Linked DNA regions of Homo sapiens. The protein of the gene in region 1 interacts with the protein of each later gene in a biochemical or structural test. Each region holds a gene or a part of one and is shown on either strand. Other genes may lie near its edges.

Region 1 (5,326 bases):
AGAACTTCCACCTGGGGTGTAGAGCCTGACACCCGGAGAGGTTTTTTTCCTTCCATAAGTGCCCATCTCCTAAGGGTGTTTAAGGGTTAACAGCAGAGTGCTTTCCTCCAGAGAAGCGCAGGCAGTGTCTAATAACACATTTTCTACGTCCGTTTTATAGATAGGGAAACTGGGGCACAGAATTCGAGGGCCTTGTCCAAAGTCATGGATGGAACTGGATCTCCAAATGCTGTAACTCCTGATGTCCCTGCAAATTGCACATGGGAATATGCTTTGTAAAAGTGCCTTCTGGGTGAAAGGGTTAACATGTTAGGCAGTGGAGGAGAGCCCGTCAAAAGCTGTCAAAAGGTCTTGCCCGGGGTCTTGGATCAGGCTAGACTAGACAATGGCCAAAGTATTGAGAAACTGGAACACAGGAACTGTTTTCCTTTGACGTCTAGTCTGCTGTGCCAGACTCCAGACATTTGCCCTCCGAACACAGTATGTTAGGATGAAACTAAAAAGAAAGGCCAGGTGAGCTTCCGCGTCTCCTGTATCCTATTTTGAGTGAGTTTCCAAAAGCAAGATTGTGTTTAGACATCCAAGACTGCAGTTATCAGCTGTACAGCTCCAGACTGTTGGAACGCTGAATTTTGCCATCAGAGCAAAAGATCCTTACCCCATGCTGAGATTGACCCAAGGAGGTAGAGACAGGGAGTGTGTGAGGGACACTGGCTCTCCCTGGCCCACCTCTGTCTCCAGCTGTGCTGCTTGAAGCTGCTTTGTCAATGGAAATGGCACATTTGTTAGTCTTTTTTTTTTGAGGCAGAGTCTCCCTCTATGGCCAGGCTGGAGTGCAGTGGCACGATCTCAGCTCACTGCAACCTCCGCCTCTCAGGTTCAAGTGATTTTTGTGTGCTGATCAGCCTCTCGAGCAGCTGGGATTACAAGTGTGTTCCACCACACCCGAATAATTTTTGTACTTTTTGTAGAGGCTGGGTTTTACCATGTTGGCCAGGCTGGTCTCAAACTGCTGGCCTCAAGTGATCTGCCTGCCTCAGCCTCCTTCCAAAGTGCTGGGATGACAGGCGCGAGCCCTGTGTTGGGTTGCATGTTTGTAAGTCTTAATGTGAGTAAACAGCAGTCCATTGCAGCTTTTAAGTTCCTGTTTATACACATAAATACGTTATTATTTTACATATGTGTATAAGCAGGACTCTAAAAGCTACATCTTCCTTTCTCTATCCACTTAAAACCAACAGGGGCCCATGATGCCCATCCTTTGGGCTGTCGGTGCTGTTCTAGAATCAGAGCACCTGGGAGGCTGAGGGTTCAGCATATGATGCCCCTTTATGCCTCATGGAAAGTGCACACCCTACATTTAAGTTTTGCTTTTTTTTTTTTTTTTTTGAGCTGGAGTTTAGCTGTTGTTGCCCAGGTTGGAGTGCAATGTTGCGATCTCAGCTCACTGCAATCTCCGCCTCCCGGGTTCAAGCAATTCTTCTGCCTCAGCCTCCCGAGTAGCTGGGATTATAGACGCCCACCACCACACCTGGCTAATTTTTTGTATTTTTAGTAGAGACGGGGTTTCACCACGTTGGCCAGGCTGGTCTCGAACTCCTGATCTCAGGTGGTCCACCCACCTTGGCCTCCCAAAGTGCCCCACGTTTAAGTTTTGTTAGCATCTACTGAGTTTGGTCCATGTTCGGGGCTGGGTCCATGCAGCCCCATTGCCTTTCCATAGGCCTAGGGCAGCCCTCTGCCCCTTGTCCTGGGTTGGCCTCCTGCCCAGTCTCCCTGGCCCCAGGTTTCTGGTCTCTGTTTCTCTGTTGAGCAGTCCTAGGGACCCTGTGTGCTGCCACAGGCAGACAGCAGTCCTTGTTGCAGAAAGAACCTTTTTTACTGAGCATTTTGCATGCCTTGCCCCGCTCAGGGTTGCTAGGAGGAGGTCTGTGTGAAAGCAGCCGCCCAGGAAATGTCCAAAACCATATTGCCTTCAGTGACCCCAAAGCTGCAGGTGTCGGGCTTGTAGAAGATGAGCCAAATACTTACATTGTTGAGGGGCAGAATTGCCTTGAGTAAAAGATGTGCATTTTATAGAACATTCTTATGGCAGATGAGCGTTGTCATTGCCTAGGTGTTAAGAAAAAATTCAAATTCTTTTTTCCTCCGCTCTCACGGCCACACTCAACAACCAACACCAGACTTCTTCCGCACCCCCCACCCCAGATGGAGTCTTGCTCTGTCTCCCAGGCTGGAGTGCAGTGGTGTGATCTCAGCTCACTGCAGCCTCCACCTCCTGGGTTCAAGCAACTCTCCTGCCTCAGCCTCCTGAGTAGCTGAGATGACAGGCACCTGTCACTGTGCTCGGTAATTTTTGTATTTTCAGTAGAGATGGGGTTTCACCATGTTGGCCAGGCTGTCTTGAACTCCTGACCTCGTGATTTGCCCGCCTCCCAAAGTGCTGCGATTACAGGCGTGAGCCACCACGCCCCGCCTCCCAACACAAGACTTCTGTGACTAGACGTAAAGGGAGGTCTCCCCCTGCTATCAAGCAAGCAATCAGTTCTGCAGCACACACCGGCTGGGTGTCCTCCAGTTCATCTCTTGACACTATCCACCTGGAGGTAGATTTCCTCATCTTGAGGGCTCAGTCCCCAAGACTGTCCTTCCACCCCAGACACCAGTTGCAAGTCCAGTCCCTGGTAGCTTCTGACCAACTAGCCTCTAGTTGGGGTTCTCATGACCCCCTCTTTGGGGTCGATTAATTTATTGGAATGGCTCACAGAACTCAGGGAAACACCAGTTTATTATAAAGGATATTACAAAGGCTATGGATAAAGAGACCTGTAAGGCTAGATGTGGCAGAAGGGGCACTGTGTTTCCGTGCCCTCTGCAGACCACCCACCTGGTACATGTTCAGCTCTCCACAAGCTCTGTGACCTGGTCCTTACAGGTTTTTAACGGAGGCTTCATTATGTAGGCATGGTAGATTAAGCCATTGATCATCACTTTAACCTTCAGTCATCTCCCTCCTGAGGTTGGAGGATGGGGCTGAAAGTCCCTAGGCTCCCACTGCCCCATCCGGAAGCTGCCTGGGGGCTGCCAGTGTCAGTCATTAGCATACAAAAAGACATTGCTTTGGAGATTCCAAGGATTTGGGAAGTTGCATGCCAGGAACTCCAAATATTGATGGCAGTGTCACACTAGGGTAGATTCAGTCCTAATTCTTTGCGCACTTCATAACCTCCTAAAGCAAGTAAAGGCAGCAGCCTTGGCCAGATCCTACAAAACAGGTGAGTGTTGCAAGCTGCCCAGGTCTTTGTAGTTTTTCCAGTCTTGGGTTGCCAAGGTTTTGTGGACCCTGAGACAGATGTGTTGAATCTGAAAGGAGCAAATAAATAAAACTGAAAGCCAACCCGGAAGTCTGTTTCAGTTGATGGCCCTTAGGTAATTGGTCGATGCCGGCATTGTTCCCGGGGGTCTTACCTCCCCGGAGCAGCGGTCTTCTACATGGACCTATGTTAAAAGGTTGACTCTGGGCCCCGTAAACGCGCACCTTGCATTTGGATCATAATTCAAAAATTGCTTTAGACTAGAAATCCCATTTTGTTGATTGAAGAAGCTCAGTGCCTTTTCTGTCCATTTCTGTGTGTCTCTGCCCAGGTTATGTGACCAAGTTGCTGGAGGCAGCCAGGTGAAATGACATGAAAATCACTCATCTCATTGGGCAGACTGTTTGCCAGGCTGTCTGCTGCGTGGCCTTTATACACAAGCAGGGTCGCAGACACTGAGTTCGTCCAAAAAAACAATCCGTAGGCCCATCAGGGAAGGCTGGATTCCGCCTGGGAGGGCACACTGAGCTTCAGACACCCACACACCCACTGGCACCCCCGCCCTGCCCCGCCGCCCCGGGTGGAGCCCGCAAGCGCGGGAGTCTCTCCCACGATTGGCTGTTTCTGGTCTCTGAGGAAGAGGAGCACCCCTTAAGTGAGAAGGGGTGCTGGGAGTTCTCTGTTACTCTATTTAAATGTTAATTCCACATAAGGCAGAGGAAAGAAGTTATAGAGAAATAAAAGAAAGCAGCTTAGAGCAAACAATTATGTAAATAATAACGAAATACACTAACCTCCATCTAATGTGTGAGGAAATAGGATCCATGACGTAAAAACTTGAATAACAGTTAATGTCCTTCATAGGAATCTGACCACCGTCACTGGAGTAGACTCAGTTTACCGGGGTTTTTCACACATACACACGTATATATGTATATGTATACACACGTATGTATATGTGTGTGTGTGTGTATATATATGTGTGTGTGAGTGTATATATATATTTTTTTCTTTTTCTTTTTCTTTTTCTTTTTTTAAGATGGAGTCTCGCTCTTTCGCCCAGTCTGGAGTGCAGTGGCGCGATCTCGGCTCACTGCAAGCCCCGCCTCCCGGGTTCATGCCCTTCTCCTGTCTCAGCCTCCCGAGTAGCCGGGACTACAGGCGTGAGCCACCATGCCCGGCCCACAAATACATTTTTATTGGCGTGGTTGGGTTTGCCTATAAATGCTTAGCTAGCTTGATGGATCAGTCTTCATGAGCCCTTGACCAAATGTCCAGGTCACCCAGGAAACTCCCTCCCCAAGGCCAAGGCCACTGCGGTTAAGCTCTGGCTGTCTGAACTTGCCCCTGAACCATGCCCTCTGGCCTGATGGAGCTGAGGCTTCTGGTGTGGCCTCAGCACTGTGAAGTTTTGCTGCAGTGGTTGCATCTCAGTGTAGGGTGGTTTGACTTCAATGGTTCATACTGAGCACAGGTGCCCATGAACCTCCGCCTGCCTGGTCTGCAGTTGCTGGCATTCCAGGGCTCTTTTCTAGGCTTGCCCTCTGGCCTGGGAGCTTGGTCTCCAGTGCCTTAGCACCCTTCCTGGGTCTCTACTGCCCCCTCCATGCCAACTTGGTAGGCTTGGGCAGAGGACCCAGAGGCCTCTCCTTCCACAGGGACTTCAACAGAAGCCATTGAATATAGACCTGTAGCATATTCCAGCCAGGCCTGCCAGTTAAACAAAGAAGGGCAGATAACCAGGGGAAGCTAGGCTCCAATTCAAGTAACCTGAGTTGTGGGTGCTGCAGGGGCTGGGCCACCCTCTGATTAAGGTCATTTTCTAAATAATTTAAATGAACCAAAGTTGTTCTCCCTTTCCGTGTTGTTTCACTTCCCTCCCCCCAACTTTTTTTTTCTCTTTTTGAGACAGAGTTTCGCTCTTGTTGCCCAGGCTGGAGTGCAATGGTGTGATCTCGGCTCGCTGCAACCTCTGCCTCCTGGGTTCAAGCGATTCTCTTGCCTCAGCTTCC
Region 2 (4,412 bases), on another chromosome or scaffold:
AGCCTAAGTAGGGTTTAACACCGTGCCTCATCCTGGCTAACCTTCCTCCCTCGCCCCCCGCTCACAGCAGAGGCTGGGTTTTCTGTGGATGAATGTGTTCCTGGTTCACATCCATCTGCTCCTTCCTGATGGAGAGAGTTCCGGAAGCATGGCCACCGGCTGCTCACCCCACTCTGTTAGCTGCAGGGACCCTCCACAATCACTCGGGCTAGGGAGGGAGACGGGAAGTGCCAGAAAGCCTTGCAAGTCAGCCAGTTAACTCACGATCAGCCCTCACATAGAAATACGCAATTTTCCCAATATTTACCATTTTATTTTAAAATATAAAATGTGAGTGAGTCCCGGTTTGAGTATTACAATGAAATTGCTCATTTATCATGGTCTTCTATATTCAACACATTGTCTTTTTAATCTGAAGTTTTAAAAAACCTGCTTCGAGTTGGTAGTACACTTTTTCAATAATTTTGGTTGCACACATCAGCCTATTAGTGACCTTGTGGCCAGAAATAACAGATAACTTAGAGGAAGTTACTTCCCCTTCTTAGGAAACACCTTTGAGCTATGCACATTTTCTGATAATTTCACATTTATTTATGAGTTCTTTAACCATTGAGTGAAAGTTTCAAAAAAGCTCCAAATATATTAAATTTTGCTATTGTTAAACACGGAAGAAACCAATGAACAAGACAACAAATTCCAAATGGACTGAACTATGAAAAGGGAATTTTCTCAGCTAACAGCATGAGTTTTGGTCAAAAGAGAGAGAGGGAAAATGCATTTGAATAGAGATGTGGATTAATTATTAATAAAATCCATATACTCTTAGGCTAAATACTTATAATTGCTTGATACTACTTTCCAAAAGCTCTGTAAAATATATTATGGGTTTTTATACAAGTTGAAAAATAAAACATGTACCATATAATTTTTTAATAAAACGAGATTGCCCAGTGGGAAGTGGGATTGAGGGGGACACAGATAGGGCTTCATCAAGAAGTTATAAAATCAAAACACAAAACGCTTTATAGCAAACGGGGCACAGGAGTACACCAAGGCTCCAAGTTTCACTTCCATCTTGAGAATCTGACAGGTGCACCTGTCTGTTTCTCCGGAGCTCTGTTAAGGCAGGTTTGAGGAGGTCTCTTCCCTTTGTTGTCATAGGGAAAAGTAGATTTGGCGCTGATGTTGAGATCGACAACCACAACAAAAGACCTTCACATGTTTGTCTTTCCTTTTGTCTGCAGGGGGTGCAGCTTTTATTTTCCCAAATACTTCAGTATATCCTGAAGCTACGCAAAGAATTACAACTAGGCCAGGTACGAAAACACCCCTGTGTGATCTCTTCATTGAGAGACATCCCAGATGTCCTGCTGAGATCCGTGCCCTAAGTCACGTGATACAAAGAGAGCTGATCCCGGAGCTGAAGCCAGTCCCAGACAGTCTTATTCTGCCTCTGTTGATTTGGAGACTAAATCCACTCAAACCATTTCATTCAAAGACCACACTAAAGGAATTAAGAGCAGATTAGCCCTTTAACTAGCTTTTCAGAAAGACAGATGGGCAAAGAAGGCATCCTGGATGCCTGGCAGTTAGGAATAGGCCGACTTTTGAACTAACAGAAGGATCTGTCCCTCCTCGGGGGAAGAGCACAAAACAAGGACACTCCCCAGATTCACAGTGACCGATTATCAGTATGTCACAAGAAGCCAGTCTTGCAGAGCAGAAGCATGCAACCAGTAGTATTTACATCTGAATCTTACTGCCTGTCCTCCAAATGATTTAATTAGGTAATAAATTTACATGCCATTCATGCAAAAATAAACATCTATCAAGTGCCCATTAGTGCCAAGCGTGGTGTTAGACTCTGGGAATATATAGATGAACCAGGCTTCAGTAAGCTTCCTGTCTTCAGAAAGTTTACTTCTTCATTCAGCTTGGTTTGTTCATTTGCTGAGTGCCTCCTCTGTGCCAGCCACGGATGGTATGATGGTGAACAAACCGAAATGTTTTGCCTCCAGTTCTAGATGTTTCAGTAGAGTGACCTAGAGCCAGAGAGACACATATGTACACATAAATGTTTTCCCTAATGTGATAGATTTTATGGTAGAGGAACCACTTCTAGCAATACAGGGCGTAGGAGCAGGGGTGGGGAGGAACTCAATCCCCCATGAAAGGCATAAAGATGCTTTCCAGAGGAATGGCCACATGGCAAAGGGGAATTAGATGTTTGCCAGACGAATAATGAGCAGGGAGAGAGGGCATTTCCCAGAAGGGTATAGCTTGCCTTTAGCATTTGTCCTCTCCCTGGGACTTACATCAGCCCGATAAGCTAGGTATCATTGTACCAGCCTCACAGCTGATGACATTGTGTTCAGGGTGGTGGGATGGTTTCTCCATATTCATACATGCTTCCAGAATTCATGTTAAACTCTATCACATATCCGGAATACACAAGTCTCAGTTCGAACTGGTTCAAGATCTAGGCTTGGCAACTACTCTTTCTTTCTAATGAGAAAGACTGGGGGCCCAGGGAGCTAAAGAGAATGAATGAGGAAGCTTCTCAGGCTGTTCAAATACTGACACTGCCCTGGTTACTGCCTAGTGACTTCAGGCTGGCAATTTTCTCTTCTCTAACGTCAGAGAAAAAGTTTACTGTCTTGCTCCTGGGAAGCATGATGGAAAGGCTTAGCAGCTAAGGGGTACTAAGAGGTAGTAAGTCATCTCTGTCATGTAAAAGATTTCACAGGCCATTGAAACATGGGCAAGACCCAGTGCCTAGAGTCTGCAAGATTGGTCCTAAAGACATCCACCACGTGTATTGCGAGTGGAAAATAGAAATTCATGTTTGACTCAAGCTTTAGAGATTTTGTAATTCTGTGAGCATTTAAAAAATATTTCCATATAAACTAAAAAAATAAAAACTATTTCCAAAACATTTGGCTAGGGTTTTAAAAATTTTTTTACTTTTTAATTTTGTATTTGTTTGTTTATGTTAAGACATCTCATAGGTGCCTCTGACTGAGTTGCAAAGCCAGGGGTTGTGAGCTAGTATTATAAACTGTGTTAAAAGATCACAACACTGGCCAAATTCATTGGCACAATCTCTCTGTCAGACAAGCCAGCTGACTGATGCTACCTGGTTAAGACAGTGGGTCCTGGAGCTGCTTTGTTTTCACATTTTAGGATATGGTGGATTTGGAAGGTATGGCCCATCCAGGTGGATGGAGAAGAGGGTGACTGTGAGGATGTTGGTTGGGACTCCCTCTCTGCCCAACCCAGGGAAGGCAAGGGTGGCAAACTCAGACACCTCCCATGCCGCTCTGATGGTGGTCTTCCATGGGCCCATAATTTGAGCGTGACCTGGGAGAGAGCACACTTCCACAGCTCCACTACTAGTCAAGTATGTTTTCGCGACTCAGTTTGTACCTGAAATAACCTGTTTTGACCACTGCTACTGTGATTATGAGAACCAATACAAATATTGGTATCTGACCTGTAAAGAATTTAAAGCAGACTGAACAAGCCAGAGGACTATTTACTGTAGGCCCTATTCAGGGACTTGAACTTGGAGATAAGAACTAGTTATACACCTCGGGTCATCCATTGCTAAGCGATCAACCTTAAAGGACTGCTCCTGTGGAGATAAAAGCTGTGAACCTGCAACTGGAGAATGAACGTCGTGATGGCTGAGGGGGAAGAGCTTTTGCATCACTAACTTTCAGAGCTGAACGAGCTCCAGAGGGAGGTCACTGGGAATCTGACGATATCCCTGTGGTCAGTGGGTACCTGACTACTTTCAGAAAGGTGATTGTTGACTGTTTCTTTGAAGGTCCTTGGGGATACAGACCCAAATCCCTGTCTCCTCCACTCTTGGTTTGCTGTGCCATGATCTTCATTTCCATACCCTTTGTCTAATCCCACATCCGAGGGAACCGAACTCTGGTCAGCGTTATTGTGCTGACCATGAAGCAAGCCAGGCTCCTAGGTAACAACTCTACTTAGACCAGAATCTGTCTCTTCTCTGCATGGTGGCCGTTTCATTATAGAGTCCCTGATAGAGGAGACAGTGGTGTTCAGGGTTTACTGGTTAAATTAGACAGCATTCCGCACCCTTTCTGCAGAGACTCCTACACATGTGTGTTGTCCTGCTGCATCCACCTTCCCAGCACTTCCTCACCACCCTTCCCTCCTTCCCTTCCCACTGTGAGTCACCCATCCCTGGGTTACTGCCCCAACCTACCTTTTCTTTTCTTTTATCTTCTTTTCTCTTCTTTTTTTTTTTTTTTTTTTTTTGAGATGGAGTCTCACTCTGTTGCCAGGCTGAAGTGCAGTGGTGCAATCTCGGCTCACCACAACCTCTGCCTCCCGAGTTCAAGTGATTCTTCTGCCTCAGCCTCCCGAGTAGCTGGGGC

What was found.
Region 2: the proteins of RCC2 (region 1) and ERG form a complex in vitro, tested with the Homo sapiens proteins (one large-scale study listed by BioGRID).

The regions. Positions count from the first base shown.
Region 1 is NC_000001.11:17,431,982-17,437,307, reverse strand, and holds part of RCC2 (protein RCC2), read left to right. Parts: intron 1-5,326. UniProt on the Homo sapiens protein: Multifunctional protein that may affect its functions by regulating the activity of small GTPases, such as RAC1 and RALA. Required for normal progress through the cell cycle, both during interphase and during mitosis.
Region 2 is NC_000021.9:38,397,478-38,401,889, reverse strand, and holds part of ERG (transcriptional regulator ERG), read left to right. Parts: intron 1-1,244; coding exon 1,245-1,316; coding exon of another isoform or gene 1,317-1,528; exon of another isoform or gene 1,529-1,818; intron 1,819-4,412. UniProt on the Homo sapiens protein: Transcriptional regulator. May participate in transcriptional regulation through the recruitment of SETDB1 histone methyltransferase and subsequent modification of local chromatin structure.